2 linked regions of the Homo sapiens genome follow. The protein of the gene in region 2 purifies or fractionates together with the protein of the main gene of each other region. This does not show direct contact. Each region holds a gene or a part of one and is shown on either strand. Other genes may lie near its edges.

Evidence for each region.
Region 1: the proteins of SLC6A7 (region 2) and MRS2 purify together in Homo sapiens (affinity purification with mass spectrometry; one large-scale study listed by BioGRID and IntAct). This does not show direct contact.

The regions. Positions count from the first base shown.
Region 1 is NC_000006.12:24,405,936-24,409,731, forward strand, and holds part of MRS2 (magnesium transporter MRS2 homolog, mitochondrial isoform b precursor), read left to right. Parts: intron 1-2,472; coding exon 2,473-2,509; intron 2,510-3,525; coding exon 3,526-3,638; intron 3,639-3,796. UniProt on the Homo sapiens protein: Magnesium transporter that mediates the influx of magnesium into the mitochondrial matrix and regulates magnesium metabolism. Also permeable to calcium, sodium and potassium ions.
Region 2 is NC_000005.10:150,188,700-150,194,900, reverse strand, and holds the start of SLC6A7 (sodium-dependent proline transporter), read right to left. Parts: upstream 4,840-6,201; 5' UTR 4,817-4,839; coding exon of another isoform or gene 4,574-4,816; coding exon 4,541-4,573; intron 174-4,540; coding exon 1-173. UniProt on the Homo sapiens protein: Brain specific sodium (and chloride)-dependent proline transporter. Terminates the action of proline by its high affinity sodium-dependent reuptake into presynaptic terminals.

The DNA.
Region 1 (3,796 bases), on a different chromosome or scaffold from region 2:
TCTACTAAAAATACAAAAAATTAGCCAGGCCTGGTGGTGGGCGCCTGTAGTCCCAGCTACTTGGGAGGCTGAGGCAGGAGAATGGCATGAACCCAGGAGGCGGAGCTTGCAGTGAGCCTGGATCATGCCACTGCACTCCAGCCTGGCAGACAGAGTGAGACTCCATCTCAAAAAAAAAAAAAAAAAGGTGTGCCTATTCTGAGCCAGACTTCCTAAATTCCAATCTCACTCTGCCTCTTATTGACTAGGTGGCCTTGGACAAGTTACAATAACATCTTTGTGCCTTAGTTTTCTCATCTGAAAACTGAGCATAACCTACCATATAGAATTGTTATGAGGATTAAATTAACTCATATATAGAAAGCCCTTAAACTAGTGCCTCACATATAGTAAGCCTCAAATATATTTCATTAGGATTATTTAGGCTTGTTAACATAAGAGCTTTTCTTTATAAACTATATAAAATTAAATAACCCCCAGAATTGCGTTTAAAAGTTACCACTGTTATTCATTGTTCTGGAAGAGTTGGCCAATTTAGTTAAGAATACAAAATCAGGGCCAGGCACGGTGGCTCACGCCTGTAATCCCAACACTTTGGGAGGCTGAGGTGGGCATATCATTTGAGGTCAGGAGTTTTAGACCAGCCTGACCAACATGGTGAAACCCCGTCTCTACTAAAAAACAAAAAAATTAGCCAGGCGTGGTGGTGCACGCCTGTAGTCCCAGCTACTCAGGAGGCTGAGGCAGGAGAATCGCTTGAACCTGGGAGGTGGAGGTTGCAGTGAGCCAAGATTGCACCACTGCACTCCAGCCTGGGCAACAGAGCAAGACTCTGTCTCAAAAAAAGAATACAAAGTCAAACGTGAAATACTGAAAGTTAGTTCTTTGCAGGTGAAATAATTGCAAAGAACACTTAAGAAATTCATAAAGCTATGGAATCTGAGAAAGAAAAATTTAATTTGTGCTGTTTGAAATAGTTTAGAAAGTGAGCTGGTTACAAAGTAAATATTTTTTTCTTTATAATTTGTATGATTTAAAAAATTTTTTTAAGTTCCATTAAAGAAAAAAAGGGTACATATAAATATTGAGATGCAAAAATATTCAGCATATGTTGCTAATTTGGAAGGAGGGAGACTGCAAAGCAGTATGTATAAGTATGTTTTATTAGGAAAATGTTTGGAAGGATATTCAGTGAAATATTGACATGGTTTTCTCTAAAATTTGTCATTTCAGGTGATTAATATAGTTTTATGTTACGTATATTTATTTTCAAATTTTCTGCAGTGGGTTTATGTATTTGTGAAATATAAGGCTGAAAGCTAGACTATTACACAAATATAAAGCTTTCTTTGATATAAATTTTCCTTTAATGTTCTATGGAACTTATATATTCATATTAATTTTATTTTTGCTGATGAGAAGCAAGATAAAATATATATATTGTGAGTTTTTATTGTGTGATTAACACAGCATGTATATTTCCATGGTAGTAACCCAAGACCTATATTGTACTTAAACCTGTATGTTGGAGTGTCTTTCTGAAATGTGTCTGTCGTAGTAAGTAGTACAGCTCAGCACATAGTGATTCATTAAATGTTTCACAGCTTCAAACTTGACTGTGGATAAACATCACTGAAAGATAGTCCCCTACTTTGCAGGAAATAGGTGCATTTTCTGTATCAAATCCTCTCTTCAAACTATCAGAAGGGGTTCTGTAAATCTTTATTGATTCTGCAACACCCACCAAAGAGACTTTGGCCTCATGTAGACATTTAGATTCACAAGGCGGGCCATACTTGGTCCCAGTCTACTCAGAAGGATAAGGGACAGGAGAAACAACAGGGTAGTGTTAGGTGTTTCCTCTTCAAAAGAAGTCTTTGCAGCCATCCAGGGGCTTCTCTGGTCCTCTGAGTGATCGCTCAGTGACAAGGAGATAAGATTCTCAAAGGTGGATGTGAGATTCATCTTGGCTCGAATCCCCATGCCCCGTAGTGACAGTATCCCTTGTAACCATCGCAGGGGCACAGTGTCCAGGATTCTGGCTGGGAACATGGCCACAAGAGCCACCACAATCAGGAAAGGGCAAAGAGAGCTATTGCTTTTCACCTGATAACTGTAATTTGTTCGTCTTCCCAGTCCAGTGCAGTCTACCAGTCAATGGTCATTTTTACCATAAGGATTGTTACCTAGTAACAACACAACTGATACTCCTTTATCAACTTTCTAGAGGAACCAAGATAGAAAGTTAAACCCAGGTCTGATTTTTCCTATCAAAGGAAAAAAGGATTTTAAAAAAACCCTTAACTCATAACTGGATTTAATCTAAAGAAGGTCAGTAATGGTTTATATTTGCATTTCAACATTTTGGGGATATTACTTACAATACCATAAATTCTTAACTAAATTAGCAATACCATAAGTAGCATTCTAATTTGAAAGAAAATCATAATTTGTTTTATTCTCTATTTTCAGACAAAATTTGACAAACAGGGAAACGTTACTTCTTTTGGTGAGTGATTAGCATTCTAAATCATTTTTTAAACATTTAATGAGTGAATCTGATAGAAATCAAGAAATTGTAGTATTTTGAGTAAAATATTCTTTGCATATACAGGTGTGTTGAAAGAGATCTTTCTTCAGCATTTGTCCATCAGTCTTAATTGGAGCTGGCAATACTCAGACTGTGTGTATTCTCCCAGAATTGTTTTCTTCTAGCAGGAGCCACTTTTTGCTCTAACAGGCTATTGAAGGAATATTTGGGAGAGCAGAGGCTGGTGTAGAACTGGAGCCCAGAGACACACTCTTTTTCTCTTTTGTCTCTCTTGTTGGCGTCCCTTTCACTGCCCTCATTCATTCTCCTGAAGCATGTTTAAGGCAGAGTCACATAATACCACTGACATTGCAGTGGGTGACAAAAGATGAACAGGGCCATGTCACTGCATGGCAGCCACATGGAACTCTGCTGCTGATGGCTCTCTGTGGACAGCTACTTTAAAAAGTGAGACTAGGCATTACTTTACAGTGTGACTTCAGATGTGAGTTTCACATCTCCCTTGAGAATGAATCAGTCTCAGGTAATAAATTCAGCTTTTCTCATTTTTGTATTAGTCTAAGAACAAAGAAAATCAAGCTTATCTGTTCACATATATAAAATACTGAAGATGATGTTGTAGTAAAAATAGAAAATATAGTTGTGTACAGTTTATATTTAAGAGAGATAACCTGTCTCTAGAGCTGGACATTTATAGGTTCTAATGATGCATAGTTGTGGTTTCTGTATTAGTCTCAAGGGTCTTCTAAGTAGTGAGAAAGTTATGAGGTATAGATAAGAAAATCATTAGTTTGACTCTATTTAGCCCGAGTATGTTTTCTAGGTAAAAATGGATATTAAAAGACTTAATTTTAGTTTTTGTTTCTGGTAGTAACCAAAAATTGTCTTGATGGTGGTGGGAGGACTGCTCTGATGGAAAAATCTAAGCCATTTAATGTATTTGGTTTAGCCCTCTCTGTTTATTTCTTTTATAGAAAGGAAGAAAACTGAATTATACCAAGAGTTAGGTCTTCAAGCCAGAGATTTGAGATTTCAGCATGTAATGAGTATCACAGTCAGAAACAATAGGATTATCATGAGAATGGAGGTAAAATATTTTATTTTCATCTATGTTTCTCCAATACAATCTTATAAAAGTTACCTTCTAACTATCTTGATTAGTATCTAGGTTAAAAGTAATTTTGGAATAGAAATAGCTACCTGAAACATAGGATGTTTTATAGCTTAATATGCTATTATGAGTAG
Region 2 (6,201 bases):
GTGTACGCTCGATAGGGGAAGCGCCAGACATTCCCCAGGCCTACACAGTAGCCAATGCAGGACAGCAGGAAGTCCAGCTTGCCTGTCCAGTTCCCCCGGTGTGCAGCAAAGTCCACATCCAGGTCGACATCGCCCTGGTCACTGGGGGTCATCAGCAGGTCTGGGGTGACAGGCTGCCAATGAGAGAGACCAAAGAGGTTGGGGAGAAGACTGAGGCCAGGCCAGAAATGTGACCTCAAGACAAGACTCTGGAATTGAACAGGGCTAAATGAAAAGACATTCTCAGTCCAGATAATCAAGTGCTCTCAACTGGACTAACCTTGTCATATGCAGGAGAGCCTCAGGATTTTAGGCGACCAAAACTTACTGGGCCAGCAGGGTAGCTTAGGCACTAACAAAGCTACCCTGACCTTAGTCTGGCTAACACAGATGCCAAATCAAGGGATAGTCCTTTTTTTTTTTTTTTTTAATTGAGAAAGAGTCTCCCTCTGTTGCCCAGCCTGGAGTGCAGTGGTACAACCTCAGCACACCGCAACCTCCACCTCCCGGGTTCAAGCAATTCTCCCGTCTCAGCCTCCCGAGTAGCTGGGACTACAGGCGCCCACCACCACGCCCGGCTAATGTTTTGTATTTTTAGTAGAGACAGGGTTTCACCGTGTTAGCCAGGATGGTCTTGGTCTCCTGACCTCGTGATCCACCCGCCTCGGCCTCCCAAAGTGCTGGGATTACAGGCATGAGCCACCGTGGCCGGCTGGATGGTCCTATTTTGATGAGGATGAGGATGACGAAGATGAAGAGCATGATGATGATCTTAGTAAGTTACTGTATATTGAGCACTTACTATGTGCCCACTGCACTAGACATCTCACTCACATTACCTGATTTCATTCTCAGAACAACTTTTTGAGCTCAGTATTCATCTAAGCTCCATTTTCGTCATGAGGAAAACTGAGGCTCAAAGAGGTGTCATGACATACCCGAGGTTTCTACCAGGTTGGTGAGTGGAAGAACTAGGTCTGGAGCCCAAGGCTTCCTGATGCGAAAGCCAGGTCTCCTTCACCCACCAGTGCTGGAGTTTTGTTCCTCCGTTCCGGGCACCATATTTTAAGAAAGATGCAGACAATATGGAGCATGTCCAAAGGGCAGGTGGCCAGGCTGGAGGGTGTTCAGGAAAAGAGGTGATAGGAGGACAACAGAAAGAAGCTGGGAGCCCTCAGCATAGAAAGGAGAGGACTTGGAGGGACCTGGGGGTTCCCCTGAGGGAGGGAATCCACTGATGCTCCGTGGCTCAAATGGGGCCTACTAAGAACCAAGGAGATCTGACTCCTTGGTTAGGACTGGTACTTTTCAGTCACAAGCCAGAAAACTTCCCCAATACTCCCCCTCCCCGCATGCTGACAGCTTGGCTGGGGGGGTCAAACCCCACCAGGCAAGGTAGGGAGAGCCTGAGGGCTGGGTGAATTTTGTGAATTTTGGCTCATGAGCAGGAAGAAGGTACTTAAGCCGTGATCTGTGTCAGAAAGTCATAATCTTGCTGTCCCTGGAGAGGAGATGCATGCCCAGAGGGGAGCGGAGGCCAGCTGTTCCTAAGGTCTCCTTTCATGCTTCAAAGTGGGTGAGAGGTCCATGGGGCATTCTCCCTTAGGAGACCCTCAGTGATGGTGACCACAGTGGTGATTTTGCCAGAAACTGGCTATTGGCCACAGGGGCCGTGGTGACAGGAACAGCCAGACATTATTATGGGTGACGATGACAATGACAGAGCATGAAGAGCTGTTTTTAAAGTAACTAGGCTGCAAGGGGTGAAACAAATACATGCCTGGAAGTTCTTTAGCTGTGATCATGGACATGCTGAGGTGACAGGAGCAGCAGATCCCAGACTTAAGTGAAACCCACCCTTCCCCTCCAATGCCCCGTTCCCTGAGGCTGCCTCTCCAGCTGGGTGAGCATCAGCCTTCAGCAACCTCTCACCCCAGGTGAGCTCCGGGAGGAATGGTTGCCACTGTTCCTGGTGTTGGGTGGTGAGCAGGCCTGTTACCCTGAGACACCCCCCGCCCATCCCAGCACCATTCAGGCCAGTTAGCAGGAGGTCCCAGTAATGAGGATCCTCTGATCCCTCCAGAGAAGCTGCCCTTTCCATGCTCATGGAGCGGTCCCGGTTCTCTGTTTCCATGGTGACTAGAGTTCCAAGAGCAGGATGCTGCCAGCTCGTCCCCCTCCTCCCCCAATCAGAGGGAAGCCTGCTTCTGCTCCAGGGGCAGGAGATAGGGTCCTCCAAAGCTGAGCCAATCAGGAGCCCAACTGGAGTTCCCAACCCCACCATGGGGTGAATCCCAGGAGGCTGGCACAGTGAGGATGGGGCTGGTTGGGAGATGGAAGAAAGCAATCAAATAGCTGGGGCAGGGCTGGAAGCTGAATGAGTTGCTTCATACTTCTTCCTGGGTGTAAGCCTCCCACTCCTGAATCTCCCACTCCCTACCCCAGGGGCATGCAGGAACACACAGCTGAGTTTGTCAGACCTGCATGCTCGCCTTTAGGGACTCACAGCAGGGGCTGGGAGACTCAAGACTGCCCAAGCCAAGACTCTTCAGGACAGAGAGAGACAATAGGAATCTGGGGTCCAGCTTCATCATTGTGCAGATTAGGAAACCAAGTTTCAGGAAGAAGGGATGAGCCCAAGGTCAAACAGCAAGTTAAAGGCACAGCAAGACTTGGACCTAGATCCCCTGACTCTAAGTCCAGTGTTCATCTCTGAGCAATGCTGCTCCTTTGCGGAAATCTGGCATTTTCTCATTCCCGCCCAATTCTGCTTGAGAAAAGGGAAAGGACCCTGAGAGGAGGTAGCAACCTAGAACCAACCCTCTGCCCTGTTGGCTCTAGGTTGCCTAGCCTGCCAGCAGGTAAGCAGTGAGTCTCACCCCTCTGTGCCTCAGTTGCCTTATTTATAAAGTGGGGCTACTAAGACCTAGCCCCTGGAAGTGTTAAAGGATTAAATGAGATAAAGCTTGCTAACCCCCCAGCCCAGCACCCAGCAAGAGGGACAGGGCCTCTTGTGGGGAGGGAGGGCAGAGAGGGAAGAGAAGGAGAGTGGAAAAGAATGGAAACAGGACCCAAGAGACTCACAAATGGTCTCAAGAAGTCACTCATGTCAGTGAATAAAAAAGACATACCAGCTGGGCGCAGTGACTCACACCTGTAATCCCAGCACTTTGGGAGGCCGAGGCGGGCGGATCACGAGGTCAGAAGATCAAGACCATCCTGGCTAACACGGTGAAACCCCGTCTCTACTAAAAATACAAAACATTAGCCAGGCGTGGTGGCGGGCGCCTATAGTCCCAGCTACTCGGGAGGCTGAGGCAGGAGAATGGCGTGAACCCGGGAGGCAGAGCTTGCAGTGAGCCGAGATCACACCACTGCACTCCAACCTGGGTGACAGAGCGAGACTCCGTCTCAAAAAAAAAAAACAAGAAAAAGAAAAAAGACACACCACAGTGGTTCCAAGCCCAGCTGCCCCAGAGCAGAGAACTTGAATGAATGAGTGTGTGTGTGAGTGAGTGTGAGTGTGAATGTGTGTGTATGTAGGGAGGTTGATAACACCAGCCCCTGAGAACAGTCTTCTCACATCTACCAGCCCTTTAGCATTCTTCCCCACACCTCACACACCCAGTGGGGCCTGTTTTGGTGCCTCCAGGCTAGGGCTTAGCCAGAGGAGGTTCAGGTTAGAGAATGAACTTGTCCAAAGTCACCAGGCAAGTGGCAGCGGCAGAAATAGTATTCAGGAGATCTGACTCCTTAGTTAGGACTGGTACAAGCCAGAAAACGTCCCCCAGTATTCCCCCTCCCCATATCCTGACAGCTTGGCTGAGAGGTCCAATCCCACAAGGCAAGGTAGGGAGAGCCTGAGGTCTGGGCCCACAGCCACTCTCCCATACCAGCTTCCATCTTCATTGATCATATCCTCCTGCCTCCGATAGCCCCCTCCCTGTCTTTGCCTCCCTTCAGCCCTGCTGAGGGGCAGCCTGGGGTCTCAGCAGGCAAGCTAAGGGGGCGGGGAGGGAGCAGGCAGGAAAGAGGAGAGTCTTCCCGCAGGCTCAGGGAGCCGGCTTCAGTATGGATGACCGCCTCCCACTCCCCACCCCTCAGATGAGTCCAGCTCAACGCTCAGGTATTCCAATACCCCCCACACCCGGCAATCAGCTCCTGGCGGGGAGCAGCAGGGTGGAATTGGGGAAGAGGTGGGTGCCTGGCCCCGGCCGCCCCTACCCCGCGCCTCCGGGGACTGCAGACACCTGTTCATAGGCCTGGCCCAGTGAACCAGGACTCCCCTCATACTACATCCCGAACCCCAGATGGCAGGGGCAGAGGTGGGGGCGCAGACCGTGACCCTGACCCTCCCTGTTATCCAGCTGAGTCGGGCCTTCCCCAGAGCCCGAAGCTGGTCTGGGTGCATCCTCAGACCTTCCCCAGGGGCCTCGTTGGGGGCGGGTCTCTCCAACCCTCCTCCAGGTGCACCCCCAGCGCCCCCGCCCTCGTGCCCTACCTTGCGGAGGTGAGCTCCCTGGAGCTTCTTCATCTTGGAGAGCGGGTGGCCGGGGCTCAGCTGCCCCGGAGCGCAGAGAGCGAGGGCACGAGAGATGGTCCGCTGGCCACTGCGCCTTTGCCCCCGCGGCTCCCGCGCACCGGCTGGGGCGGGCACGGACGCAGGCGCTGCCGTCTGGCGGCTGCGGGCGTGGAGCGCGGGCAGGGCGCTGCGAATGCCTTGTCTGTCCCTGCGCAGCGCCCGAGGCTGGGGAAGGGTGCACTGCTGCGCCCGCATAGACACCCAGACAGACAGCTGACGGACGGACGGCGGGGGGATGCGCGCGCCCCCGCACGCAGAGCTGCGGATTGGAGAGCCCTGAGCGAGTGGGGAGGGGGGTTCGCGACGGAAACCCTCGGCTTTCTGCGTGACCTTGGGCAAGCGACCTGCCCTCTCTGGGACTCCCTTTCCACAGTTGGGCAAGGAACACTAACAGCCCACCCCCCTGCGTCGTCTTTGCTGTGCGACCTTAGGGGATAAGAATCTCTCCTCTCTTACAGGAGTGTGAGCAATTCAGGAAGATGGAGCATAGAAAACATCTAGCACAAAGAGCCTGACACATAGTAGGTGCTCAGTTAACATTTATTCACTGACTGTGGGTTGCCCACGCCACCATTAGTCCAATTATTCAATCTATCAGTATTTATTGAGCACCTAAAATGTGCCAGGTCCTGAACTAGGTGTCCTATTTTCTCAACCTGGAGAGACAGGTGTCGTTACTCCTATTCTACAGATGAGGAAGCTGAGGGACAGGGAAGTTAAGTTACTTACTCAAAGTCACGGGGCTAATGAGTGACACCAGGGACAGAGTCAGGCTTCATGGACCTTTAGGCTAGTAGAGTCTTCAACTCTCCTCCTTTCCTTAAGATGAAAGCAAAATGGGGAGGTTTGGGTGAGCAGAAGGGACAGGCAAGTGCCACAGTGTCACTGTGATCTGTGACTTAGATGATTAGTAACTGGTTTCCTGTCCAGCAGCAGTATGGCTTCTGGAAAGTTCTAATTTCATATCTGTAAAATGGGCCACGAGCCGCCCATGCATTGTTGCCTCAGAATGTTCTGAGGGTCCAGTGAGCCTGTGGCTAGGATGGGAAATGATGAGCTGGAGCAATGGCACACGTTGGTTTGCTGGGACTGACTGATAGACACTAGCGGATCAGTATATACATTACAAATTGTGTCCTTTTCACCCTCGCAAGTGTCCCAGTTTAGACATTAACCATACATCTGTTTGGCTCACTATCAGTTGACACGGTGGGAGGCCTTTGGGGAGAGATGAGAATAAGGTTCTGCTCTCTCCCACCTCTGGAGCTTGAAAAAAGGTTGGAGGGGTTTAAGTCAAAGCATGGACTTGGGTAAAGGCCTGGCCAGGCTCCAGTCCACCCCTTCCCCTGCCCAGGTCCTGTCAAACTTCTCTCCCCTTTGAGCCTGGCCACAAAGGGCAAACCAGGGGCTCTCCAGACCCAGGAGGAAGGTGTCTCCTCTGCCCCCTGCCTGCTGACCCATATGGGGCCAAGAGTGGCTGTGAGTGTGAAGAGAAGGAGCATTTATGGAGCCCTACTGTGTGCATTATGAAGGATTTTTGCATCCAACATCTAATTTTTAATTCTTTCCAACTGTCTGGG